4 linked regions of the Homo sapiens genome follow. The protein of the gene in region 4 interacts with the protein of the main gene of each other region in a biochemical or structural test. Each region holds a gene or a part of one and is shown on either strand. Other genes may lie near its edges. The genes, in order: PAPOLA, CPSF4, CPSF1 and FIP1L1.

Region 1 (7,025 bases), on a different chromosome or scaffold from region 4:
GTTGCACAGGCTGGATGCAGTGGCACAGTCTTGGCTTACTGCACCTTCCACCTCCTGGGCTCAATTGATTTTCAGGCCTCAGCCACCTGAGTAGCTGGGACTACAGGCACACGCCACCATGCCTGGCTAATTTTTTAATTTTATTTTGGTAGAGACAGGGTTTTCCCGTGTTGTCCAGCTGGTCTCGAACTCCTGGGCTCAAGCCATCCACTTGCCTCGGCCTCCCAGAGTGCTGGGATTACAGGCATGAGCCACCACGCCCAGCTGAGGCTGTATTCTTTAACCATGAACTGTATCTGCCGAGATAGTGTTGTCTGTTTTCTAGTATCCTTTCCTCTCTCCATCTCCCATCACTCTGTCCCATTAGTACATTACTTTTGATATATCCTGTGTGCTGTACACCGTTCTTCCTGTTCTAATAAATAGCTTTCAGAGTCATACCTCAGCATCTTGTCTTTTAGGAAAATGACTGTTGACCTGATTCCACATTAATCTCTCCCTTTTATGACCCCAATTGATTTTAATTCTCCTTTTTAAAATTCTGCCTATGTACTTAGTGCTGGCCTCTTATCAAGCACTGAATTAATGACAAATATTTTACCATTGTCTACTTCTTTGGATTCTTCTGCTTGAAGTTTATTTTGTAGGTCCCATTTAGGGGCCTGGTAGAGAACCTATAAGCACCAAATACGTAGTACATAGAGGAAAACTATTTTTGTTTTACCAATGAACATGGCTATGACTAATGACATCAAGATGTTGGGTGTATGTTTGAATAATTCCCTCTCCACCATGAAAGTACTTGCTGAGCCATCTTTCTTTGGGCTCCCAGTTTACTTGGGCCACTATAAATAGAGGATGCTGCAGGATCAAAATATACCACATCAATTAAAATCATGTTTGTCCTCCATTGACTGGTAATTTTAAGTAAGGGGTGGAACATTTTTAGAAGCTCACCAGTATGTTAAACAGATTCTCAACATCAAATACTACCATGATAGGATGCAAAATAATTTTCTTGTAATATTAATTAGTGGTTGATGGGCTTAATTTTTTTTAGGTGCTGATATTGATGCGTTGTGTGTTGCACCAAGACATGTTGATCGAAGTGACTTTTTCACCTCATTCTATGATAAGTTGAAATTACAGGAAGAAGTAAAAGATTTAAGAGTGCGTAAATGTTCGGGGTGAAATGGGATGAGTTATGAACATTCATTTAGTCAGTTGAGTGAATTTTATGATATAGCCATCATTTATTGAGTTCTTGCAATTTGCCAAACCTTTCTAAACACTTGGCATATGTGTTTGTGTTTTATTCTTTACAGCAAGCCTAAAATTATAAACTCATTTACAGATTAGGAAATTGAGGCAAACAAAATAAATATGAAATAATCTGGCCACAATCATACATCTGATGAGTGGGTGAAGTAAAATATTTGAACCTTGATTTCTGATCTGTCTGATCGAACAGCCCAGTCTTAAAGCTAGCTATTTTTGTGTCAGGTGTTTTGCTAAAGTACTAAAACTAGTAGAGGCTTAAAATGTAGTTTCAGAGACCCTGAACTTGTTTACTTTCCTTATAGGCTGTTGAAGAGGCATTCGTACCAGTTATTAAACTCTGTTTTGATGGGATAGAGGTAAGGTATAGTTCAAATTGACAGTTCTTGCTATGTGCTGTCACTAATTTTGATTGATATAGGTTAAAAACTTGGTTTAAAGTTTATAATTAGTGAGTTGGTTGTGATATTAATAACAATTAAGGCTTTTAAATGGAAGTGACTGCCTATTCTTGTAGAATATACCATTTTAAATCTTTTTAAAAATACCAAGTGAAATTTGGAGCTAAAACAGAAGTAATGAAACCTTAAGATTGAAATGCTATTACAAAAAAGTTTTTTTGGTAGCTTTTCCATATGCCAGTTTTGTGTGCTTTTAGTCTCATTAAGGCAGTAGCATAATGTGTTTTTGCAAGTAATGCTTTGCTTTGACTTCATTTAAAAATTGGGAGAAAAGTGTGAGTGCTGAAATATCTTCCGATAGGGGAGGATTTATGGACTCAAATTCTTGAGATGATGTTCATTTCTCCTTGCTGCTTTCGGTGTGTGTAATTAAAGTGATGAGAATAAAGTTGACAGTGAAGCAACTTTAGTAATTCATTACTTTTGCTGTACAGAATGGTACTGGAAAGTCACAGATAATAAAGTGAAGATTGTAACATTTTGGAAACTGTAAGAGAAATAATTTATTGAAGCTGGGCACAGTGATGTGCACCTATCAGGAAGCTGCTACAGGAGGATCTCTTGAGCCCAGGAGCTTAAATCTAGCCTGGCAATGTAGCGAGACTTAATCTCTTTAAAAAATAAAAAAGATAATTCACTGTTGTACTATTTTGCAAAAAAATGGCTGCATCTAAGGTTGCTGCATAAGACGCTCAACTCTGTATTTTATGAAAAGTCAAGTGACTGACCTTAATAAGTAGACATAAAATGTTAAATTTGGTAAAGGATTATCAAGTTCATGTAGTTTTGATTTACTGTCAGTGTTTTAAGTAAACGTAAAAATAATCTGTAATATAAAGTATAAGTTGAGGCCTCATTTTCCTAAAAAGAATATTACTGACAAAGAGGACTTTTTTTTGGAAGGAGACCTGACCTAACTTTGTAAACTTTACAGGATCAAGATGGAAAGTTAGATGGCTACTTAAAACATTTAATGTGTTAATTTTCTATTATACATGCTATATTAAAAAATAATATTTTAGGAACATAATATTTTAGGAAATTTAGTAATCATTTTCACATTTCAATATTTTTTGAAGTAATTCCATCCTTTAAAAAATGTGTCAGTATTATTACTGAGTTGCTTTTTCAGTTACCTAGTTTTATGAGCCTATAATCTTTATTTCTGTCCAAATTGGGGGAGACTTTGAAATCTGTTCTTTTTCATTGAACAGTTTATCCTAGACCACAAGTACTTATTTGTGTAACAGTACAATTTTTTTTCTGTAGGTATGTTTAAATGATATTTTAAAATGTGCTCCTAAAATACTGCTTTTTAAAAAGTGATCTAGTAGCCAGGCACGGTGGCTCATGCCTGTAATCCCAGCACTTTGGGAGGCCAAGGTAGGTGGATCACGAGGTCAGGAGATCAAGACCGTCCTGGCCAACACGTTGAAACCCTGTCTGTACTAAAAATAGAAAAAATTAGCCAGGCATGGTGGCGTGTGCCTGTAGTCCCAGCTACTTAGGAGACTGAGGCAGGAGAATCACTTGAACCCGGGAAGTGGAGGTTGCAGTGATCCAAGATCCTGCCACTGCACTCCAGCCTGGGCGACAGAGCAAGACTCTGTCTAAAACAAAAAAACAAACAAACAAAAAAAAAGTGATCTTATAAAAGGCTTGTTTACAGCGACATCCACATTTTTGGAACCATGAAATCATACCCTCAGGGATAACTACCAAAGCTGTGCTGTTTCTTTGCACTCTCACCTTTCCTTTAGAAAAGAAACAATTTTGTCAGCGGAATTCTATGTCTTCAAAATTAGCCTTAACTGTGGTTGTTTTAGGCTGTACTTTCCCCAGTGTTTTTGTTTTACTTAAAACTCAGTTGGAAAAACATACTGTAGTATTACAGACATAAAAGTTCTCAGATATAATGGAATCTCTTTATTGAGAATTATTTTTGGCTAAATGTAAGGATGTTTGCCTTATATTTGAGTACTATTAAGTTCTCATGTATAATGAGATCTCCCCTTATTGAGAGGTATTTTTGGCTGAATATAAGGCTATTTGCCTAAATTTGGGTACTTTTTAGTATGTAATCAATTTATAATTCATATAGATGAAGAGCTAAACAGTTAACTTTAATTCAGCATATGTATTTACTAGACTTACTATATCCAGTAGATGCATTTAACAAACTTAATACATCAAACTTGATAATTGTGATTAAACTGACAACCAGGTATTTGTACATTTCCATTTCTGTTTTAAAAATATTGCCATGTTTGTTTGTTTTTTTTTTTCTTTTTTTTTTTTCTGAGGCAGGGTCTTACTTTACCCAGGCTAGAGGCAGTGTTGCAATCACAGTTCACTGTAGCCTCAACCTCCTGGGCTCAAGGGATCCTCCTACCTCAGCCCCCCCAAGTAGGTGGGACTACAGGCGCTTGTCACCATGCCTGGCTAATTTTTAATTTTTTTTGTAGAGATGGAGTCTCACTATGTTGTCCAGGCTGATCTCGAAGACAGCCTCAAGCAGTCTTCCTGCCTTGGCTCCCAAAGTGCTGGGACTACCGGCGGGAGCCACTACCCCCAGCCTATATTGCCATGTTTTAAAATTATCTAATTAAAATACCTATGATACGAAATAATATAGTTTGGACTTTTGGAGGGACATTGTCGTGTTCATAGATAATGAAAGGATCCTGGCTTTAAGGAAAATTAGGTTTTTGTTTTGCTGTTTTGAGTCAGGGTTTTACTCCTGTCACCCAGGCTGGAGTGCGGTGGCATGGTTTTGACTTACCGCAACCTCCGCCTTCCAGGCTCAAATGATTTTTCTGCCTCAGCCTCCCACAGGTGCATGGGAGGTCCATAGCTGAGACCACAGGTGTGTGCCACTACACCTGGCTAATTTTTTTGTAGTTTTTGTTTTTGAGACGGAGTGTTGCTCTGTCACCCAGGCTGTAGTGCAGTGGTGCGGTCTCGGCTCACTGCAGTTCTGCCTCCTGGGTTCACACCATTCTCCTGCCTCAGCCTCCCCAGTAACTGGGACTACAGGTGCCCACCACCATGCCCGGCTAATTTTTTTGTATTTTTAATAGAGACGGGGTTCACCGTGTTAGCCAGGATGGTCTCGATCTCCTGACCTCGTGATCCGCCTGCCCAGGCCTCCCAAAGTGCTGGGATTACAGGTGCGAGCCACTGTGCCAGACCTGTATTTTTTTTATAGAGACAGGGTTTCGCCATGTTGCCCAGGCTGGTCTTGCTCAAGTGTTCCACCTGCCTCAGCCTCCCAGAGTGCTGGGATTTTTTGTTTGTTTGTTTTTTCATAGAAATGCCTTAAAAGTAGTTTGACAGATATGGAATGTTGTTTTGTTTGTGTTTCAGATTGATATTTTGTTTGCAAGATTAGCACTGCAGACAATTCCTGAAGATTTGGATCTACGAGATGACAGTCTGCTAAAAAATTTAGATATAAGATGTATAAGAAGTCTTAACGGTATGAGAAAGCCTACTTCCTTTTGTGTACTTCAGTTTTTGTCAGATATTAGTTGTTTTTACACAAGTTTTGTATTGAAGCTTTTTATAGCTATATTGTTAACACAGTAGTGAGTTAAATAAAATGAACTTTGCCTAATAAACTACAGAAGAGTATGTAGTAGTTTATTTCACTCTACAGTATTTTATACACTGTATTTCTTCTGTCATTAATGGTATACTCAGGACACTTAAAAAGACCATCTGACTTTTGTACTCTGTTGCTAGTGATTTAGGTTTCATGGCCTAACCCAAATTAATTTTGATCCTGTTATTCTTTAGTAATGCTTTCAGCATTGCTGAGATCAGAAGGACTACTTTGGTACAATTTTATATTAGCATAGCTTGTTACTGTGCTCTTGAAGAGCAGTTCTTGGAAACTTTAGTGGATTAAGTCTTCCGCAGTATATGTGGGAAGTTTTAATTGTGAATCTGAAGTTCAAATTGGGGCAGGTTACAGTTTACTTTGGTTTCTTTGGTCAGTGCTTACAATAGGAGATAAATGCTTTAGATTTTTTCCCCCTCTTTATTGAATTAGCTTTACTGGTTCTACCAAATAAAAATTTATGTTTACTTTTAACTTCAATCTCAGAAAATTTGGAAGCATTACCATTAAACTTTTGATGATTTAATGTTGTTTTTTTTTGTTTTGTTTTGTTTTGTGTGTGTGTGTGTGTGTGTGTTTTTTTTTACCCCTATTAATTAGGTTGCAGGGTAACCGATGAAATTTTACATCTAGTACCAAACATTGACAACTTCAGGTTAACTCTGAGAGCTATCAAACTATGGGCCAAACGTGAGTTCAGAATTTGTTGGCTAGCTTATTAAAAATGTTCAAACTTTTGTTCAACACTAACTTATCTTTTTGCTTTTCCCTTATCAACAGGCCACAACATCTATTCCAATATATTAGGTTTCCTCGGTGGTGTTTCCTGGGCTATGCTAGTAGCAAGAACTTGCCAGCTTTATCCAAATGCAATAGCATCAACTCTTGTACATAAATTTTTCTTGGTATTTTCTAAATGGTATGTGTTTAGATTATATTAAAATAAAATTGATTGTAGACACTGAAGTTTAGTCTTATTTCTATGACATTTCTCAGCTTGGTTTCAGATTCAAATTTTAGTTCATGATGTAGTCATGTAGGCAGCCTTGGAGATCACATTGTGTATAAAATGGCAAACTGAAACTATTTTTTTTCCCTAGTTTGGCCAGGATAGTAAGGCAGATTCTATTTGTACTTCCTTGCATAAACTTACCCTCTGAATAAACTCTGAATTTTAGCAGCTAAGATCCAATTTATTGATAGGTTGGGAAATCAGTTACTATACTTTTGGATAAAACTTGTACACACTACCTCTTTCACTCTTTTAATTCTCTATCTATAGGCCATTAGTTTCTTGTGATTGTTTTTTTTTTCTTTTTGCTTTCAGCATTTATTTGGCCTAATATTAAAGATACGAATTTTCATAAGAAGCTTTTAAAGAATAAATTAACATTAAGTGCTTCGGGACAAAAAAGGAATTTGAGATTAGTCATTAACCCAGATTTTTTTAAGTTTCTTCGTTTCATTTCCACATATGTCAACTATGATTTAAGAAAAAGTAGAATAAAAGATTACTGCCATTTTATATTAATTGCCTTGGCCCAAAAGGTGAGGGTTCTTGGTTTTTAATCAAATTAAGATAAATCGTCCATTCCTGTTCTTATGAACTCCTGCTCCTCCCTCTGCAAAAGAGATGTTCTTTTCTAGTAATTTTATAAAAATTA
Region 2 (7,025 bases), on a different chromosome or scaffold from region 4:
ACTCAGGACAGCTGAGGCCACGCATTCTCTAAGCAGGGCTCAAGGCAAGTTTGTTGCTACCAGAAGACACATCTGAGGCTGTTATTTTGAAGGGCTATTTAGGATGGCTGAGATGTCACCAGGATCATGGCTCCTGGAGAGAAGGAACCAGCTCGGGCCTGAGAGGCAATGCCCACGCTGGAGGGAGAAGTGGGTTTCAGGGAGAAGGTGGACGTGGACAGAAACCAACCACGGACATAATGCAGCCAGCTGCACAACTCGCTGCTTCCGGGTCACCCTCGTTAGCCTCAAATCCGAGTGATTGAAAGAGCTCCAAACACTGAAGCACTCCAAAGTGATGCGCGGGGCCAGGCGTGGTGGCTCACGCCTGTAATCCCAGCACTTTGGGAGGCTGAGGCAGGCAGATCACTCGAGCCCAGGAGTTCAAGACCAGTATGTGAAACATAGCGAGACCCTATGTCTTTAAAAAAAAAAAAAAAAAAAAAGAGATGAGCAGAAAATAGCCACACTGTCCCCTAAAAGCTGGCTGAGGCTGGCAGGTTCTGCCAGAGTTCTCCTCTGAGAATAGAAAGATGGGAAAAGCAGGCAGAGACAGTGTGGGCACTGAGCAGCCAGCGGACCCCTCTGCACCCTGGTTCTCAGCAGAGCCTCCAGGGCTCCAGGCGCCTTACCGAACTTGGAGTAGAAGTAGCACTCGGGCATCTTGGTCATGTCATACTCATGCAGGAACTCACACTGGTCCCCTTTCTTGCATAGGCCACGCAGCCAGTGTTTGCACACAACTGTCTTCTCACCACTGATGTGGCGAAACGGACACATGCCCCCTGCCGGCAAGATAGGGACAGGGTGTCAGCAGAGAGGCCACCCTGAGCCTGGGGGACACGGCCTGAAGAAGCTGAGGTACCTTCACTTCCTAACTCCTGGAGCCACCTGAAGGCATCACGTCCTGGAAAGGGGCAGAGGTCCCCCTCACAGAAGGCAACATGATTTGAGGTACTACACTGACAGACATTTTACATTTTAATAGTTACTCATGGCCGGGCGCAGTGGATCACGCTGGTAATCCCAGCACTTTGGAAGGCCGAGGTGGGCGGATCACAAGGTCAGGAGATCGAGACCATCCTGGCTGGCACGGAGACCATCCTGGCTGTCACGGTGAAATCCTGTCTCTTCTAAAAATACAAAAAATTAGCCGCGCATGGTGGCTGGCGCCTATAGTCCCAGCTACTCGGGAGGCTGAGGCAGGACAACAGCGTGAACCCGGGAGGCGGAGCTTGCAGTGAGCAGAGATCGCGCCACTGCACACCAGCCTGGGCAACAGAGCAAGACACCTTTTCAAAAAAAAAAAAAAAAAAGTTACTCATGATCTCACAGATATTACTGTAAGATGGAGGAATTAAAAGGGGGGAGGTGCTGGGAGGCTGAGGTGGGTAGATCACGAGGTCAGGAGTTCGAGACCAGCCTGGCTGACATGGTGAAACCCCATCTCTACTAAAAGTACAAAAAAAATTAGCCCGGCTTGCGGGTGGGTGCCTGTAATCCCAGCTACTTGGGAGGCTGAGGCTGGAGAATCGCTTGAACCCAGGAGGCGGAGGTTGCAGTGACCGGAGATCACGCCATTGCACTCCAGCCTGGATGACAAGAACAAAACTCTGTCTCAAAAAAAAAAAAAAGAAAAAAAAAAAGAAAGGAACTTGGCCGGGTGTAGGAGCTCAAATCTATGATCCTAGCACTTTGGAAGGCCAAGACAGGAGAATCACTTGAGCCAAGAAGTTCGAGATCAGCCTGAGATCTTGTCTTCACTACATAAATAAATAAGTAAGTAAGTAAGTAAGCCAGCCAAGCAAGCTTGGGGACCAGGCACAGTGGCTCACACCTGCAATCGCAGTAGTTTGGGAGGCCAAGGCAGGTGCATCACCTGAGGTCAGGAGTTCGAGACCAGCCTGGCCAACATAATGAAACCCTGTCTCTACTAAAAATACAAAAAATTAGCTGGGCGTGGTGGTGTGCACCTGTAATCCCAGCTACTCAGGAGGCTGAGGCAGGAGAATTGCTTGAACCCAGGAGGCAGAAGTTGCAGTGAACCAAGATGACACCACTGCACTCCAGCCTGGGCAACAAGAGCAAAACTCCGTTAAAAAAAAAAAAAAAAAAAAAAAAAAAAAAAAAAAAAGCTGGGTATGGTGGTGTACACCTGTAGTCCTGGCTACTGAGGAGGCTGAGGTGGGAGGATCACTTGGGCCCAGGAGGTCAAGCTTGCAGTCAGCTATGACTGTGCCACTGCACTCCAGCCTGGGTGACAGAGTAAGATGCTGCCTCTTTTTTAAAAAAAAAAAAAAAGGAAAGACCAATTTCAGAATTGAGGAAATGTGATGTATACACATGGAGGGACGTGTCCCTTCTGGGACAGGACCTGATGGGACAGAGCCAGCCTCTGGGGATGTGTGAGACTTCTAACGGGTGGCCTGGCAAGACCACCATGGAGGTCCGACCAGAATGAGGCCGCTGTACACTTCTGCTGTCCAATATGGCAGCTGCTAGCCCCATGTGACTACTGAGCACTTGAAATATGACTAGTGTGTCTGAGAATTTTGTTTTAAATGTGATTTGATTTTACTTAAATTTGAACTGCCACATGTGACTAGTGGCTACTGTATTAGTCAACAGAGAGACAGAATGCCCTGTGTTAGGGATGGCTGTGCTAACAGAAGGTGGCTGGTCAGAAGGGCAGAATTACTGAGCAAAGACATGGGAATGAGACCAGAAACTCAGTGGAGGTAATGACGTTCTGACTGGACAGTGTGAAGGTGGCCTGGCTGATCTGCCAGAAAGTCTCCTACCTCAGTGGTAAATGACTACGTTATAGAAGCAAAACTCACCAAAACCATTCATTAAAACCAGCCCTTTGCTCTGATTCTCTGCTCTCTTTTTCAAGCTTCTGATTAATATTTAAGTCTCCTAAATAAATTTTCCTACAGGGAGAAAAATGCCCAGACCATGGAAAGTTTAGGTTGTACCTAGTGATACTTCTTTCTTTCTTTTTTTTTTGTTTTGTTTTGTTAAGACAGAGTCTCACTCTGTTACCTAGGCTGGAGTGCAGTGGTGCGATCTTGGCTCACTACAACCTCTGCCTAACAGGTTCAAGTGATTCTCCTGCCTCAGCCTCCCCAGTAGCTGGGATTACAGACGGGCGTCACCATGCCCAGCTAATTTTTGAATTTTTAGTAGAGACGATGTTTCACCATGTTGGCCAGGCTGGTCTCAAACTCCTGACCTCAGGTGATCCATCCACCTCGGCCTCCCAAAGTGCTGGGATTACAGGCGTAAGCCACCACGCCTGACCCCTAGTGATACTTCTGATGGATTAGCCCGGCCCACATACAATTATTAAAAGAGCACAGCCAGAGGGGTAACAAGATGGCGACCAAGACAGTGGAGCTCCATAAGCTGAAGCTTGCTGAACTAAAGTAAGAATGAATGTCTTGCTCGTGGTTTGGAGACGAGCAAATAAAGCAAGATTTTTTTTTTTTTTGAGATAGAGTCTTGCTCTGTTGCCAGGCTGGAGTGCAATGGCACGATCTCGGCTCACTGCAACCTCTGACTCCCTGGTTCAAGGGATTCTCGCACCTCAGTAGTTTTGTGTAGTCTGTGTTGAGGGCTGGTTATCGAGAACAAGACCCCGCAAGATGGGTTATCATGGGGTGTTTCGATGGGAGGCCACAGAAAACCATGAGCCAGTGGAAACTATGGAATGAGAAAGACCTGGGTTCAGACACTGGGCTCTGCCGCTTATTAACTCTGTGACATTGAGAAAGTTCCTGAGTGTCTCAATGCTGGGGGCTTCTCTCCATGTCACAGGTCAGCTTGTGGCCACGGGGAATGCGAAGTGATAAGGCAGCCTTAGAGCCAGGTTCAGTCCTGCGTTTAGGTTTCAGGTGGAACACCCCATCAGGGTCCTAGCCTGTCCAAACCAGTTTTATCTACAGAGATCGTTAGTCTGTAGAAAGCAATGTAAGCCAGAGACCTGGCGGCCTCCAAGTCTGCCGGGGAGAAGGAGGTGGGAGGGCGCCTCCGGAGGCACATCAGGGAGCCCGGAGTTTCTTACCTTTGCCGCAGGCAGCTTTCAAAAAGAATTCACAGACAGCAGCGCCCGACTCTGTAGAAAGGAGAGAAAAGGAGAGGAATCAAAGAGGTGCAATTTGCTATTGACAATGTCTGAAGACAGTGGGAGGGAACCCTTCTGACCTCTGACCCACCAAGGGTTCAGGGTACAGGAAATAAAGTAGCAAAAATTTGCAAAGCCCAACCAAGCAAGGAAGAAGCTGCTTAAGTTAGTCACGCCCTACAAAATGAGACACATACATTGAGAACAGTCATTACCCAGTGCTTTGAGAGCCTCCTGTATATAAGATCCTTTCAAGGAGTTAAGAGTGGGTGGGGAAAGGAAGGCTGGAGTACGAGATCACAGAAATAATTTTTTTTTTTTTGAGATGGGGTTTCGCTCTAGTTGCCTGGGCTGGAGTGCAATGACGCGATCTTGGCTCACTGCAATCTCTGCCTCCCAGGTTCAAGCAATTCTCTTGCCTCAGCCTCCCAAGTAGCTGGGATTACAGGTGCCTGCCACCACGCTTGGCTAATTTTTGTATTTTTAGTAGAGACGGGGTTTCACCATGTTGGCCAGGCTGGTCTCGAACTCTTGACTTCAGGTGATCCACCCACCTCGGCCTCCCAAAGTGCTGGGATTACAGGCGTTGAGCCAAAGTGCCTGACACACAGGAATAAATTAACGGCCCCTAGCTCACACCTTCCTCCAGGAGGGCGAATTCACAGATACCTTAACATGAGGCAGAGGGAAGGAATGATCTCACAGACGTACAGACAATCAGGGCCTCTGAGGAGGGTCAGGCTTCAAGGAAGAGGCAGTGCCTCTGAGATGCTAGTCCAGGGGGAAGCACATTAAGTGCAGAAACAGAGGACTGCTTTTAATATGCAACATCCGTACACAATTTTTTTTTTCTATTTTTTTGAGACAGAGTCTCGCTCTGTCGCCCAGGCTAGAGTGTGGTGGTGCGATCTTGGCTCACCGTAACCTCTGCCTCCTTGGTTCAAGAGATTCTCCTGCCTCAGCTTCCTGAGTAGCTGGAATTATAGGTGTACCATCATGCCTGCCCAATTTTTTTGTATTTTTAGTAGAGATAGGGTTTTGCCATGTTGGCCAGGCTGGTCCCAAACTACTGGCTTCAAGTGATCCACCTACCTTGGCCTCCCAAAGTGCTGGGATTATAGACGTGAGCCACCACACCTGGCCCACATACAATTATTACAGGCTGGTCTCGAACTCCTGACCTCGTGATCCGCCTGCCTTGGCTTCCCAAAGTGCTAGGATTGAGCCACCGCACCCCACCCCACATACAATTATTAAAAGAGCACACCCGGAGGGGTAACAAGATGGTAACTGAGATGGTGGAGCTCCATAAGCTGAAGCTTGCTAAACTAAAGCAAGAATGTCTTCTTGTGGTTTGGAGACCAAGGGAATAAAGCAAGATCTTATCCACAGACTCCAGGCATATCTTGAAGAACATGCTGAAGAGGAGGCAAATGAAGATGTACTAGGAGATGAAACAGAAGAAGAAAAAAACCCCTTGTCAAATAGGAAGAACCCCCTGAAAAAAACTGTTGATGTGGCAGCAGAGAAGAAAGTGGTGAAAATTACATCTGAAATACCACAGGCTGAGAGAATGCAGAAGAGGGCCGAACAATTCAGTGTACCTGTGAGCTTGGAGAGTAAGAAAGCTGCTCAGGCAGCTAGGTTTGGGATTTCTTCAGTTCCAACAAAAGTCTGTCATCTGAACACACCTATGGTTAACTTGGATAAGCCGAAGGAAAGAGCTCAAAGATTTGGTTTGAATGTCTCTTCAATTTCCAGAAAGTCTGAAGATGATAAGAAACTGAAAAAGAGGAAGGAGCGATTTGGGATTGTCACAAGTTCAGCTGGAACTGGAACCACAGAGGATACAGAGGCAAAGAAGAGGAAAAGAGCAGAGCGCTTTGGCATTGCCTGATGAAAGGTTCTTGATACTTTCTGTTCTCCAGTGTTTTCCACTTCTCTCATTCTTCTTGGTCACATATATACTAAATGCAGTCTTGCCTTGCAATGAGGGAGCAGGTACCCCAGGTAAAACTGTGAACTGCCGCGGCAGTTTGACTTATTGCTGTTTCAGCTTTAAGGTTGTTGTGTTTTTGTTTTTGATTATATTGCTTGTTTTTTGTTTTTTTTTTTTTTTTTTTTGAGACGGAGTCTCGCTGTTGCCCAGGCTGGAGTGCAGTGGTGTGATCTCGGCTCACTGCAGGCTCTGCCCCACCGGGGTTCACACCATTCTCCTGCCTCAGCCTCCCGAGTAGCTGGGACTACAGGCACCCGCCACCTTGCCCAGCTAATTTTTTGTATTTTTAGTAGAGACGGGGTTTCACCGTGTTAGCCAGGATGGTCTCGATCTCCTGACCTCGTGATCCGCCCGCCTCGGCCTCCCAAAGTGCTGGGATTACAGGTGTGAGCCACAACGCCCGGCCGATTATGTTGCTTGTTAATAAAAAAGAAAAGAAAAGAAAAAAAAAGCACAGCCTTTCATTCCCACAGTCGGAGTGTGCTGGAATTCAGTGGGCTCCAGGGACCAGCTGTTCTGATGAGTCCAGGAATTCACCAGCCCCAGCTGCCAGACTAAACTGACCTTGGCATCAGAAACAGTTTCCTCTACAAGTAACCATTTTAGAATTGCTGAAAAACCAATGACAGCATCTCTGAAGCCCACTTAACATGCCTCCCCTTGCTAAATCACAAAAGATTCCTTGGCTTCTTGGAAGCAAGCAGATTTTGCTAGGACACAGCTGAGGTTATAGAACTTATGGCTGTCACAGGGAGGTCACTCCATTTGCATCTCAAAAAGTCTGAAAGTGGCCAGGTGCGGTGACTCACGTCTGTAATCCTAGCACTTTGGGAGGCTGAGGCGGGTGGATCACTTGACATC
Region 3 (7,025 bases), on a different chromosome or scaffold from region 4:
TCGCTGCCGTACACTTCAATCTCGTCCACCTCATCCTGCGGCACCGACTTACCCGCAGCTGCACACAGAGAGCCCACTTGAGCGCAGCCCTGGGTCACCTGGCCCCGCTCCTGACCAGCCCTGGACCGGCCCTCACCTGACCAGCCGGCCGTCGCATCCACTCGCTTCTTCTTTGAGGGAGGCTCTTCCTGTGAGGCAGGAGGGGCACTGAGTGGCATGCCACAGCAGTGCCCACATGAAGGGTGGTGGCCCAATGGGCCCAGGAAACCCACCTTGTCGGCAGCCTCACGGACAGCACTGGCCGGGGGCTCCTGCAGCTTCTCCGTGTACTTGAGGAGGAGGGAATTGCCCAGGCGAGAACCCAGGAACAGGTACCCGGGCTCCATGGTGACCATCTGAGGGAGGGCAGGTGTGTGATGGCTGGGCCGGGTCTGGACCCAGACCCAACCCCTAGTCCCAACTCACGCTGGTGGTGAGGACGCTGGCGGCCGCCTTGTCAAAGTGGAACGCTCGGACACTGCGCATGCCGTCGGTGATGAGGGTCAGCACGTAGCTGGGGGCAGGGAGAATTCTGAGTCGGGGATGGGGACCCTGGGGGAGTGAAGGGGGCCAGGGGACCCTACAGGACTTGTGGGGGGCGGTGTGGGCAGAGTTCATGGGCGGGGGAGGGGCTCACATCTCGCCGCCCTTGAGGGAGATGACCATCTTGTCGTAGGAGATGAAGGTGGCCTGGGCGCAGTCCAGGGTGATCCGCACACCCTCCTGGGTGCCTGTGGGGTGGGTGGTCAGGCCGACTAGGCAGGCCCAAGCCGTCCCCGGGCCCCCCCCGCCCCAGCCACCCCACACTCACGAAGCGGGAAAGCCGTGGTTCCTGTGGTGAGGCTGTTGAGAGCCACGCCATACGGGGGGACGCTCTGGTTCAGGTACAACAGCGAGTTGACGGCAAACACCACCACCCCACCTGGAGGTGGACACAGGCTGGTGGGCAGGCTCAGTGCTCTCTCCACACACTCCCCTATCCACTCCCAGGACACACACCTATGGGCTTGGGCACAGCCAGAGCCTGGGTGCAGTCAAAGGGCAGGCTGGTGAGGGACCAGATGACGGGGTGCACCTTCTGCGTGATGTTCAGTGAGATGGCCACAATGGAGCACGTGTCCTGCCGCACGGCCACGCGCCTGGGGACGCCAGTGGGTCAGCCAAGGGCCTTGCCTCCCCGCAGAGACCCAGGCCCAGCTCCTCCCGAGCAAGCCCCACCACACCCCATAGGCCCCGCCCTAAACCCCATGGGCCCCACCCCAGGCAGAGGCAGCTAGGGGGCCCACAGTGCAGAGGGGCCTCCTTAGGGGGCTCACCCAGGCCAGGTCTGGTTGGGCTCAAACAGGATGAGGAGGGTAGGCTCGTAGTAGCCATGCAGGAACTGCAGGTCGATGATGTTGAGCAGCTTCTCGTCTAGGGCCCGCACGTCGATGATGTAGCTGGGCAGGAAGCTGGACCTCTGCCTGGGGGGCCAGGGGCTTCAGCAGGAGAGGAGGGGAGGCGGGGAGGGGAGCTCGGGCTCTGGCGCCTCCCACCCCAGCACCACAGCCTGCCTCAGCTGGCACTCACCCCTCACCCACGAGCCCCTCGTGCTCCTCAGCCAGGCTCTCCCTGCGGAAGGGCAGGACCACCAGCCGCGTGCCGTAGACAAGCATGGCTGCACAGCGCCCGTCGGGGTCCACCCGCACTCGCGGCGTGTGTACATTCTGCACAAACCCGTCCTGGGGGCAGAGGGGGCATCAGCCAGGCCCAGCATAGGAGACCCCGAGGGAAACACTTGGGGCCACAGAACCCAGCTGCAGGGGGAGGGAGGGTGGCTGGGCGGGGCCTGGGCGGGGGCGGGAGCGCGGCCCTACCCGAAGCTCAGGCTCCTCAAAGTAGTGCAGTGACAGGGTCTTCAGGTCATGGGTGCCCGGGTCGTACTCCACCACAGACAGCTGCGGTCAGAGGGCACAGCCGTGGCTGCCGACTGCCGGTCCTGACAGTGTCGCCCCCGGCAACCAACGGCTGTACCCAGGCCCTGGCACCCACTCCCACGCCTTGGCCAGGCCTACCCCACCAAGCCTACCACTCACCTTGGCATCCTTGAAGCTTAGGAGCAGGGCATCCCGCTTGGCTCCTGCCAGCTGCACGCTGGCCATGGACATGACGTTGCCAAAGAAGGAGAAGGAGGCAGCAAGCTCGAGCTTCTCCCGGTGGGCCTTCCCCTCTAGGGGAGACACCAGGGCTCAGGGTCAGGGCCCAGCCATGCCTGGCACCCGCACAGCCCCAGGCCGCCCCACCACACTCACCTGTGCTCCTGTCATTCTTGGTCAGAGCCTGGAGGGGAGAGAAAGACAGGGCAGTGAGGGGCCACATCTGGCAGCTCACCTCATCCGGGGAACGAGAAAAGACCACCAAGCCTGGCCCCTGCCTCCTGGGAGCTCTGCCCAAACCCTCTCTGCAGCAGGGAGAAGGGCTTCTGGAGACAGCTGTGCACAGCCCCCCACAGCGACCCCCATTCACGCTCTCATGCCCACGGCCCAGCCCTGGCACAGGCCCCTCCCCAGGAAGCCCCTACCTCACGGCTCCCTAGCAGCCAGGCCCTGTGCGGCAAGCACTCAGGGTTAGAGTGCACTCTGTGTCTGCACACCCCCAAACCTGCCTGGTTGCACACCTACAGCAGCCCAGCCCCGGCCCCTGGGTCCAAATGTCACAGGGCAGGAAGCCAGAGCCAAGGGGTATCTGTAGCTACTGATCTGCGTGCCTGTTAGAGAAGAGGAAGCCCTGCGCTATCCTGACGCCTCGGGCTCCCCCAGGCTGCCTCTCTATCTCCTCCCTTTTCACTGCCCTCCCAGAATGATAAGAGGCTGTGTGTTCTTTGCTACTAGGTAGCTAGTTTAACTAGCTAGCAGATTTATATGCCATTGCCTCAAGGCAAGGGAAAAGTGGTTTTTGTTTTGTTTTTTTTTGTTTTTTGTTTTTTGTTTTTGAGACGGAGTCTCACTCTGTCACCCAGGCTGAAGTGCAGTGGCGTGATCTTGGCTCACTGCAACCTCTGCCTCCCGGGTTCAAGTGATTCTGCCTCAGCCTCCCAAGTAGCTGGGATTACAGGTGCGTGCCACCATGTCCGGCTAATTTTTGTATTTTTAGTAGAGACAGGGTTTCACCATGTTGGCCAGGCTGGTCTCGAACTCCTGACCTCAGGTGATCCGCCCACCTTAGCCTCCCAAAGTGCTGGGATTACAGGCGTGAGCCACCTCAAGGTCATTTTTCACGATGGACTTGTGCTATGGGGAGGGCATCTTGGAAGCTGGTTAAGAGATACAGAAGAAGCATCCACAAACCAATACCCATCTCACAGCGACAAGGGCAACTCCAGGGCTTCACCCGCAAATTCTACCAAAGGTTTCAGAAGTAATGACACACTTAAAAAAAAAACACACACCCACTCATGTGGGGCTGACGGCACCGCAGGTGGCTCAGGCCACCCCAACAGCCCACAGACAGGTGGGACAGGAAGTGACACCAACCTCCTCAAAACGCCTGCAGATGAGCCCAGTGACAAGCAGGGGTATTGTAACACAACTGGGTTGAGTTATTCCAGGAACGCAAAACTAGATTTCCGCAAGAACAGCCATCGCTAAACTTACCATGCTGTCAAAATTAAGGAGAAAAATCATGTCATTTTAGTGGATACAAAAAAAGCATCTGATAAAGGCATTCGTGATAAAAACTCCTAGTAAAGCAAAAATAGGAGGAAAATTTTTTTTTTTTTTTTGAGATGGAGTCTCACTTTGTTGCCCAGGCTGGAGTGCAATGGTGTGATTTTGGCTCACTGCAACCTCTGCCTTCCAGGTTCAAGCGATTCTCCTGTCTCAGCCTCCTCAGTAGCTGGGATTATAGGCGCCCACCACCACGTCCAGCTAATTTTTGTATTTTTAGTACAGACAGGGTTTTGCCATGGCCAGGCTGGTCTTCAACCCCTGACCTCAAGCGATACACTCACCTCGGCCTCTCAAAGCGCTGGGATTACAGGCATGAGCCACCACGCCAGGCCTTTGTTTTTTGACATAGGGCCTCACTGTCTCCCAGGTTGGAGTGCAGAGGAGCAATCATGTTTCACTGCAGCCTCGACCTCCTGGGCTTAGGTGATCCTCCCACCTCAGCCTCCTGAGTAGCTGGGACCACATGTGAGTCACCACACCTGACTAATTTATTTATTTTTTTAAATTTTGAGACAGAGTCTCACTCTGTCACCCAGGCTGGAGGGCAGTAGTGTGATCTCAGCTCCCTGCAACCTCTGCCTCCTGGGTTCAAGCAATTCTCCTGCCTCAGCCTCCCAAGTAGCTGGGATTACAGGCATGTGCTACCATGCCCGGCTATTTTTGTATTTTTAATAGATAGGGTTTTGCCATGTTGGCCAGGATGGTCTCGAACCCCTGACCTCAGGTGATCCACCCACCTTGGCCTCCCAAAGTGCAAGGATTATAGACATGAGCCACCGCGCCCAACTTCCTTAATCAAATAAAGGGTATCTACAAAAAGTCTACAGCAATGTGGTGCTGGGAGTGAAACATTACAAGTTTTCCCTTTTGAGGCCGGGCACAGTGGCTCACGCCTGTAATCCCAGCACTTTGGGAGGCCGAGGTGGGTGGATCACCTGAGGTAAGGAGTTCGAGACCAGTCTAGCCAACATGGTGACATAGTGAAATCCCGTCTCTACTAAAAATACAAAAATTAGCTGGGTGTGGTGGCAGGTGCCTGTAGTCCCAGCTACTCAGGAGGCTAAGGCAGGAGAATCGCTTGAATCCGGGAGGCGGAGGTTGCAGTGAGCCAAGATCATGCCATTGCACTCCAGCCTGGGGGACAAGAGAGAGACTTGGTCTCAAAAAAACAAACAAAAAAAGAAGTTTTCCCTCTTGGTCAGGACCAGCCAAGGACGCCTGATCCACTCTGCCAAGTATAAGGTCAATATACAGAGATCAACTGCACTTCTGTGTACATGCAAGAAACAGGGGTAACCACTCAGAAGAATTTTTTTTTTTTTTGAGACGGAGTCTTGCTCTGTCGCCAGGCTAGAGTGCAGTGGCACAATCTTGGCTTACTGCAAGCTCTGCCTCCCAGGTTCAAGCCATTCTCCTGCCTCAGCTTACCGAGTAGCTGGGACTACAAGCGCCCACCACCACGCCTAATTTTTTTTTTTTTTGTATTTTAGTAGACTCGGGGTTTCACCATCTTGGACAGGCTGGTCTTGAACTCCTGAGCTCAGGCAATCCACCCACCTCGGCCTGCCAAAGTGCTGGGATTACAGGCGTGAGCCACTGCGCCCGGCCACCACTCAGAAGGATTTTAAGAAAAATGTGTACATAGTCAAATGGTCTAACTGGCATGTTGGGGGAAAGGGGACAGAATCAATAGCTAAAGAAATAGCGACCAAAGGCTGGGCGTGGTGGCTCACGCCTGTAATCCCAGCACTTTGGGAGGCTGAGGCAAGCGGATCACGGGGTCAGGCGATCGAGACCATCCTGGCTAACACGGTGAAACCCCGTCTCTACTAAAAATACAAAAACATTAGTCGGGCGCCTGTAGTCCCAGCTACTCAGGAGGCTGAGGCAGGGGAATCGCTTGAACCCAGGAGGTGGAGCTTGCAGTGAGCCGAGATTGTGCCACTGCACTCCAGCCTGGGTGATAGAGCGAGACTCCGTCTAAAAAAAAAAAGAGAAAGAAAGAAAGAAAAAAAAACCTTGAAAATCTGAATAAGAGGACGTTTACAGGGTTTCAAAATAAGTCCCTACAAGATACTTTTAGTTACAAAAGGAAGAAATAACCTTACAGTGGGGGAATCCAGGCCAACACTACCCAACCAAGCATCAAAGCATCAGCATCCAGTCATGAGGCAAAGGCCTCCGCCGCCTCCTGAAAGCTGATGGGGCTGCTGTTTGCCTCTTCTGTGGTGTTCCTGTCAAAAATACAAATGTCTCATCTAAACACCTGGGAATGTCTTGGCCGGGCTCCGTGGCTCACACCTGTAATCCCAGCACTTTGGAAGGCCAAGGCGGGTGGATCACTTGAGGTCAGGAGTTCGAGACCAGCCTGGCCAACATGGTGAAACCCCATCTCTACCAAAAATACAAAAAATTAGCTGGGTGTGGTGGCAGGCGCCTGTAATCCCAGCTACTCGGGAGGTTGAGGCAGGAGAACTGCTTGAACCCGGGAGGCAGAGGTTGCAGTGAGCTGAGATCGCACTGTTGCACTCTATCCTGGGTGACAGAGGGAGACTCTCTCTCAAAAAAGAAAAAAAAAAGACAGCTGTATGAAAGGTGGCTGTCTCCCTCCCTCTCCAGGTGAATCTGGGCTGGAGGCTGCCTTTAGGGCAGACTGTGGTGGCAGGGACGGTGCCCTCCTGGTCTAGCCCTTAAAGTGACTGGCAGCTTCTGCCTTAGCCTCCTAGGGCTCTGAGTTCCTGCAAGAAGCTCAACTACACCAACACCACCATGCTGCCAGGAAAACCAAGCTAGCCATGCTGGGGACAGGGGAGAGTGGAGGGACGGTGTGGGGGTAGGGGAAGACACATCTAGCCTGTCCCCAGCTCTTCAAGTCATCCCTGTCAAGGCTTGCCCTGGTGGAGGAGAGCCAAGGGCTCCCCACACTCTGATGAATCCCTGAAAACCTGGCTTCCAGGTCTGCGATTATGATAAAAGACCTCGTTTGCATATTCCAGGGCAGTTAGTTACAGAGCCACGACTAGACTGACCCCAGGAGGATGGCTTGAGCACAGGAGTTCGAGGCCAGCCTGGACAACATAGCAAGACCCCGTTTCTTAAAAACAAAAAACAAAACAGAAGAAGAAAACCTCTTTTCCTGCTATTTATGGCTCCATTTCTTGCTTCAGTTTACGCACATCTCCTCCAGAGTTGTCTGTGTTCACTGTTACTGACTCTCCTCCCCTGCTGGGCTCTTACCCCTGCTCCATTCAGACCACAACCCCTCGTGCCCACCAGACT
Region 4 (7,025 bases):
CTACTTTCTATTCCCCATTCTGCCTTTTAAAACATCATTTTTCTTTTTTAAGCCACAAGCCTTTGTAGAGAAGCCTGTGTAGAGAAGCTTAGTGGTATGAAAAATTGCAGAGGCAAATTTGATATAATGTCCAATAGATCCCTATGAAGTCTCAGACCACTCTAAATGCTAGATCCTATACTTGGACTTTCTATAGGAACTCCAAAATAAACATGTCAAATGAATCTGTTTTGTGGGAGGTGGGAGCAGTAGCACCCACCTGTACCCAATTAACTGCTCTAGAAATCTTTAAGTCACTGAGCCCTTTATCTCCTCCTCCATCCACAACCAACCAGTTACCCATGTTATTTGTTTCTATTTATTCTTTGAGACAGGATCTTACTATATTGCCCAGGCTGGCCTGAAACTCCAAGGCTCAAGCAATCCTCCTACCTCAGCCTCCCAAGTCCATGGGACTACAGGTGTATACCACATGCCTGACTATATTTCTGTTTCTCTAATACTCAAATGTACTATTTTCCCATTCATCTCTCTACTACTGCTGCCTTAGTCTAGATTATCATCTCACCTGGACAACTACTTCACATCTATTAGTCAATGTCTCTCTATCTAACCCATCTCAACTACTGATGCTAGAGTTATCTTTTCAAATGATATGACCTGTCTAAAAACCTAATTAGGGGTGTCTAAGGGAGAGAATACAGTCATGAGTCCTTAGTTTCTGTTTCTGGTTAGGCCAGTAAAGCCCCTTTATCACCCCTCTTTTCCACTTATCACTGGAGACAGAAACTAAAAACCATGGCTTTGGGCAGCTAAAAGACTAAAACAAAGCAAAACAGAACAACAACAGCAACAAAATAAGGTGCATTGGACAAGCTTGCAAGGTCTACAAAGACATAGCAAAAGCATCCTAACTCCTTCCATAAGTGATTTCAACCATCTCTTTTCATCTACCTTATCCTCCAGCCATGTACTTCCTCCAAGGCACGCATCTAATATATTTATTGTTAGGCAGTGTCCTCCACCTAAAAACCACTGTCTCCCATCTCAAAAATTATTCAAACAAGTTCAAATGTTACCTCTGGGATCTTCTCTTCAACACCTGTAGGCTTTTAGCAACTCTCCTCTCAAACCTTTCGAATCACTTTGTACATGTTTCTATTCTAGCACTTATGTTGCACTGAAAATATTTACTCACATGTCTGGCATCCTCACTACCTCTGGAAAATAATAACTTCCTGTATTCTCATCAATTAATACATTCACAGATAAAAAATTGCTGCTTTCATGTAACTTTATCTAATTTGTTAACTCCATGAAATTTCATGGTGATTTTACCAAGGGTTCTTTTGTAGCATGGTAAATGTAAAAACAATAATAATAATGGAATGATCACAGATGGTTTGATAAAGGCACATTATCTTTGCTACTTAACACAGTGCCAGATAAATTATGTCTTTAAAAATTATTTATTGAGTACATAAATGGATCAATCTCACAGAGATAGGTAACAAACTACTTTCCAAGATAAATTATTTCTACTTTAAGAGTTGCTTTTCTTCATACCTTACTTACATATAAAATGAACTTGTAACAAAGGTATGTTACGCAAAAAAAAAAAAAAAATGCTATTTTGTATTTCCTAACAATTTACAATAAATCAATTCAGTCCTTGGACACAGTTTGTTCTTTAAATTTGCTTCTGAAAACGCTGTGCATAAGTAAATGTTTATCAAATTTCATTTTCTCACTGACTTTGTTTTCAAGGGATATACCTTGAAATATAGAGGTTAAACAACTTTACACTCTTCACAAATGCCTGTACTTTACTTTCGAAATGCATAAAATGAATAAAAAATAAATCAACTGATAAATGGGTAAACGCATAGAGGGATATGAGTTCAAGCAAACAAAGCAAAATGTAGATTGTATAATCTAGGTGATGGGTAAATGAGCATTCACATGTCAATTCCTTCAACTTTTGTGAGCATTTGAAAATTTTCATAATCAAATGTCTAAGGGGAAAAACCCTCAGAGACAACTGTAACTAAATAACATTCAGTTTATTTAGTCAATAACCATTTACTGCACACTTAACTGTATTTAAGGCAATGTGAGGAATAGAAAACTCCATAAATCACAGTTTCTTGTTTTTTTGAAGAGTTTTGAATTCAATGGTTTCTACTCTATAGAAATCTGAAGTGTGTAAAGGTAATAAATATGTATAAACATAATTACAATGCATAAAACTGAAAATTGCTATAAGAAATAAAGTTTAGTAAGGTACTATGGAAGTCCACGTATATTTAATATTTGAGTGCAATTTCTACCAAAAAAAGGTCCCATCCATAATCCAAAAAAATTGTCATTTGCTTCAAGTTGTTCTATAACTTGCAAATACAAATAATTTTACATAACATTTAATGAACATGCAATTATTACAATTTTATGTGTTCCTTTTGCATCATGCAGATAGTAAAGGCCTACTAGTACTACAGTATAAGCCCAACTTTCTCATTAAGTAATTATTTACTTTCCCAAATGAGAATGAGGAGCACATTTAGAATATCCACCCCTAACATGAAAAATCAGCCTCTTTACTCTGTTCCCTAAAAAGGTGCTAGGATTTTAAAATTACATGGGTAGTCATTATTATAATACAAAACTGACTATGACAATAACTGAATTGGCTTTAAGCTTCCTGAAATGACTTCTGAAAACAAATGACTCTACTAATAAAATATTTAACAATATTTTTGTATATACTGGTTGATTCCAGATGAGGTTGCTTAATGAACTATAGTGAAATTAATGTATTTTATGTTTCCAATGCATAAGCTATAATAACCACATTATACAGCCAATTTGAAAAACAAAACACATTGACTCTTATTCTCCTATCGTAACTAAATCACAATTCGTACTTCAATGTATTTCCCTTCCAATCTTTCTGTAAGATTCTTTATGCGCTCAATGAGTCAATGACAGTCCATTTACTTGGTCCAGTTTATAGAATACAAAATTGGAGACAAACATTGGCCTAAAAGGCCTAAGGGAGAATTAGAAACCTGAAAACACTATTAAGAACAAAAAGAAATACTTTTGATATTGTTTTTATTAGGCAAAAAAATTAAAAACCTAAACTCAGGTCTGGATAATAAAGTGAAATAATAATAAGTACAGATACAAATTACAATTTAAGGATTTCTAATTCTAATCAAAGAATTTATAGTACTTTTTTTTTTTCTTTTTCTCGAGACAGAGTCTCACTCTGTTACCCAGGCTGGAGTACAGTGGCTCGATCTGGGTTCACCGCAACCTCCACCTCCCAGGTTCAAGTGATTCTCCTGCCTTAGTCTCTGGAGTAGCTGGGATTACAGGTGCCCACCACCATGCCTGGCTAATTATTGTATTTTTAGTAGAGATAAGGTTTCACCATGCTGGTCAGGCTGGTCTTGAACTCCTGACCTCAGGTGATTCACCCGCCTCGGCCTCCCAAAGTCCTGGGATTACAGGCATGAACCTCTATGCCTGGCCTAGCACTCAATTCTTTTATAAAAACACTTTAAATTCAGCATCAAAAACTGCTGCTTCTATGTACCTTCGCCTAATCAATTAACTGTATTTTAGCAAAGAAGTATATTCATGATGAAACTTTAACAAGTTCTTTTATGTTAAAATAGAAAAATGTAAAAACAATGGACTCAACCACTGAGAGTTTGATATAGGCACACTCTCCTTACTATATAGCATTTACACAATTGTTACTTACTAAAAAATAACTTACCCATACTGTGGTGCTCCCGTTTTAATGTCTCCTATAGTGACATGAACATCATCTTCATCATCATCGCTGTCACTATCACTATCATCTTCGGTCTCAGTCACTTTCTACATGAACATAAACAAATTATAAAATACATTCAGTAATCCATTTCAACATCTAATACTAATAACTAAAAAAAGTAACCACCCTGTTTTTTTTTTTCTTTCTTCTGTCTTGAGACAGACTCTCACTTTGTCGCCCCGGCTTGAGTGCAGTGGCATGATCTCAGCTCACTGCAACCTCCACCTCCCAGGTTCAAGCAATTCTCCGGCCTCAGCCTCTAGAGTAGCTAGGATTACAGGTGCCCGCCACCATGCCCAACTAATTTTTGTATTTTTAGCAGAGACAGGGTTTCACCATGTTGGCCAGGCTGGCCTCGAACTCCTGACCTCAGGTGATCCACCCACCTTGGCCTCCCAAAGTGCTGGAATTACAGGCGTGAGCCACCATGCCCGGCCCCACTCTGTATTTTTTTGAGATACAATTTAAAAGTTACAAGCTTATAATGCTGCCACCTATTTCAACTCATAATTTTGATGTTCTACAGGATAAAAAGGATAAGACTATGAATAAAGAAATGAAATCTTTTTGGCATCATCTCCTTGTGGTAAACAACACCTCATTTTTTTTTTAACTATCATATCTGCCCCTCTTGCAAAAAGATCTAAAGCAACTTACTAAGATACCTACAAGATAAAATTATAAAAAATAAGTATTTGAGAAGTCTTGGCAAAAAAGAATCTAAGAGGAAAACAATTTTAAGATTCACAGTGTCACAAATACAATGTACCAAATCAATTAAAGAATTAAAAAAAAAAACCCCAAAGCATAAGAAGTACCAAATAGTTAAGTAGAAGCTCAGTTATTCTTGGTATTCTTGTATACCTAGAAGAGGCCCTACATGCAAATTCTATATTTGTGAAGATTTTACTTTGGCTCTTAAAGGCTATTTTGTGCTTAATCACATCATAGTAAATAAGTAGATCACATAGGCAAAATACTTTTTTGTATACAACTTCAAACTTCCGGAACAATAACTTCCTTCCTTTTATAGGATTAAAATGCACAAATATTCATAGGACCAATGATATGTTCACCTCACAAAGTATCAATGGCATGCAGGCATGCAGTCAGGGACTGTCACATACATTAAAAAGCAACGTTAAAAAATCGTAACAGTGAAAGGTTGTGGGCTCAAAACTTGCTCTGAAAACCAGGCTCACTATATTCAGTAGATTTATAACCATTCAATTCCTTGAAAGCAATAAACATCAAGCCTTTGCACATACTATTTTCCTCTGCAGTCTTTCTACTATTTCTTTTCCTCATTTTAATTCCTATATATGTTTTTGATGGCACCAGATGAAGTAGGAGATGTAAGAAAGGGCCAGATAACACCTGATACTGAAGGTAATGTAAAATGCCAGCTTGCTTTCTATGTAAACTGTGAAGCTATTGATAAAGATTTGTATCAGTAACTGGATTTCAAAGCCTTATGTTACCGGTTTTGGTACACCATTTTCAGCAGTTTCATCTTCAATTCCAGATGGAGGATTAGCACTACAAACAACAAAAGTAAGTATACATGTCAGGCATTACTTTTCGGAAGTACAGATAGATTATATTAGTATTTCTAAGCTTTAATAAAGCTCCTAAAATTATTGTCTCCACTGGAGACAGTAATGGTAAAATCTGACTGTCTTATTCCGTTATTTCTAGTAACTTGCAGAAGACAAGTACTCAACATTGTAAGTAGAATGCAAATGCCAGGCTGGGCGTGGAGGCTCATGCCTGTAATCCCAGCACTTTGAGAGGCTGAGGTGGGTGGATCACGAGGTCAGGAATTCAAGACCAGCCTGGCCAAGATGGTAAAACCCCGTCTCTACTAAAAATACAAAAAAAAAAAAATTAGCCAGGCATGGTGGCGGGCACCTGTAATCCCAGCTACTCGGAAGGCTGAAGCAGACAATTGCTTGAACCCAGGAGATAGAGGTTGCAGTGAGGCTGCAGTGATCATGCCACTGCACTCTAGCCTGGGCGACAGCGTGAGATGCTGTCTCAAAAAAAAAAAAAAAAAAAAAAAAGAATGCAAATGCCTTCACAGTTTATTAATGATTTATAATTTGATGGTGGGCTATAATTCAAGCTTTTTACACATTTTAAAAATATATGACAAACTTAATCAATTTTAATTATCCTAAATCAATTTGATCTTTACAGTGGCATTTTATAGCACAATCACCAAATAAAGCAAAATGAAAGATAAAAAGTCAAAACATAACTGTTATATTTTCATTGTTCTACTGCTTGCTTCAAGAAAACAAATATGCAGCTATAATTGTTCAGTACATTTACCTCCTGCTGAAATAAGCTTCTAGGTAGCCAGAAGCAAGTCCCATTTGCTTTCTACGTCACAAAACAGTATCCCTTCTTTAGTCAAAACTTGGATAGATATAACACAATTGGAGACTGCAATGCAATGTTTAAGAAAAACAGAGGCTTCAGCAATGAGCCAGTCAGTAGGAAACGGGCAAATTCTAATAGCAGGAACTTTGGTAGAGCAATGCAATGATGTACCAAGCCAGATAGCAGTAGGTCTGGCAGAGTACCTTTCTTCAATAGGCCTACTCTTTTGGAAGTTTTAATTTTCTATCACCATTAAAATGTTAGAAACATGATAAAATTTTAAGCTTTTTCTAGAAAAATAACACTGTAAAGGAAATTGTTTTTTCCCCCATAGGATGAAATCAACTCAACGGCTCCCCAAATGAAGTTGCAGAAAGGAATATAAAGCTATGTTGACAGTGACACTCAGGGAAGGTAGAAGGTTCCCTCCAATAAATTTTAGCAAGTTGTGTATTGCGGAATTAAAATTAAAGAATGTTTGATTAGAAAGTAAGCTTTTAAAATTGTAACCAATAAAAATAAAAATTAATGGGATAAAGATTATCATATAGAAAAGTATATTTGATTGTAAAACTATACCTGTAATTAATTTCTTGACCAACTGAAGGAATGGGTACAAAGAAATATTCAATCACTTTCATAACATAAACTAAAACTAATCTCAACTTTGTGGTTGAGATCAGAATTAGGAACTGAGTTGAATATATAAATTTTAAAATGAAATAACATTTCAGATAATATACCAATGAGTGAAAAGACTATAGGGGATTTTTTGGGTAAGGAAGCTGAACTG

What was found.
Region 1: the proteins of FIP1L1 (region 4) and PAPOLA form a complex in vitro, tested with the Homo sapiens proteins (one study listed by BioGRID).
Region 2: the proteins of FIP1L1 (region 4) and CPSF4 form a complex in vitro, tested with the Homo sapiens proteins (one study listed by BioGRID).
Region 3: the proteins of FIP1L1 (region 4) and CPSF1 form a complex in vitro, tested with the Homo sapiens proteins (one study listed by BioGRID).

Annotation. Positions count from the first base shown.
Region 1 is NC_000014.9:96,526,370-96,533,394, forward strand, and holds part of PAPOLA (poly(A) polymerase alpha), read left to right. Parts: intron 1-1,060; coding exon 1,061-1,170; intron 1,171-1,583; coding exon 1,584-1,637; intron 1,638-5,105; coding exon 5,106-5,217; coding exon of another isoform or gene 5,218-5,327; exon of another isoform or gene 5,328-5,961; coding exon 5,962-6,051; exon of another isoform or gene 6,052-6,141; coding exon 6,142-6,280; coding exon of another isoform or gene 6,281-6,302; exon of another isoform or gene 6,303-7,025. UniProt on the Homo sapiens protein: Polymerase that creates the 3'-poly(A) tail of mRNA's. Also required for the endoribonucleolytic cleavage reaction at some polyadenylation sites.
Region 2 is NC_000007.14:99,441,920-99,448,944, reverse strand, and holds part of CPSF4 (cleavage and polyadenylation specificity factor subunit 4), read right to left. Parts: intron 6,611-7,025; exon of another isoform or gene 6,571-6,610; intron 6,249-6,570; exon of another isoform or gene 5,436-6,248; intron 4,157-5,435; coding exon 4,106-4,156; intron 825-4,105; coding exon 672-824; intron 1-671. UniProt on the Homo sapiens protein: Component of the cleavage and polyadenylation specificity factor (CPSF) complex that play a key role in pre-mRNA 3'-end formation, recognizing the AAUAAA signal sequence and interacting with poly(A) polymerase and other factors to bring about cleavage and poly(A) addition.
Region 3 is NC_000008.11:144,399,316-144,406,340, forward strand, and holds part of CPSF1 (cleavage and polyadenylation specificity factor subunit 1), read right to left. Parts: intron 6,519-7,025; exon of another isoform or gene 6,515-6,518; intron 5,981-6,514; exon of another isoform or gene 5,850-5,980; intron 3,676-5,849; exon of another isoform or gene 3,552-3,675; intron 2,800-3,551; exon of another isoform or gene 2,600-2,799; intron 2,359-2,599; coding exon 2,331-2,358; intron 2,249-2,330; coding exon 2,115-2,248; intron 1,977-2,114; coding exon 1,896-1,976; intron 1,761-1,895; coding exon 1,609-1,760; intron 1,503-1,608; coding exon 1,356-1,502; intron 1,179-1,355; coding exon 1,039-1,178; intron 1,031-1,038; exon of another isoform or gene 962-1,030; coding exon 851-961; exon of another isoform or gene 771-850; coding exon 677-770; intron 554-676; coding exon 466-553; intron 396-465; coding exon 273-395; intron 189-272; coding exon 137-188; intron 59-136; coding exon 1-58. UniProt on the Homo sapiens protein: Component of the cleavage and polyadenylation specificity factor (CPSF) complex that plays a key role in pre-mRNA 3'-end formation, recognizing the AAUAAA signal sequence and interacting with poly(A) polymerase and other factors to bring about cleavage and poly(A) addition.
Region 4 is NC_000004.12:53,380,639-53,387,663, reverse strand, and holds part of FIP1L1 (pre-mRNA 3'-end-processing factor FIP1), read right to left. Parts: intron 5,387-7,025; coding exon 5,329-5,386; intron 3,892-5,328; coding exon 3,788-3,891; intron 1-3,787.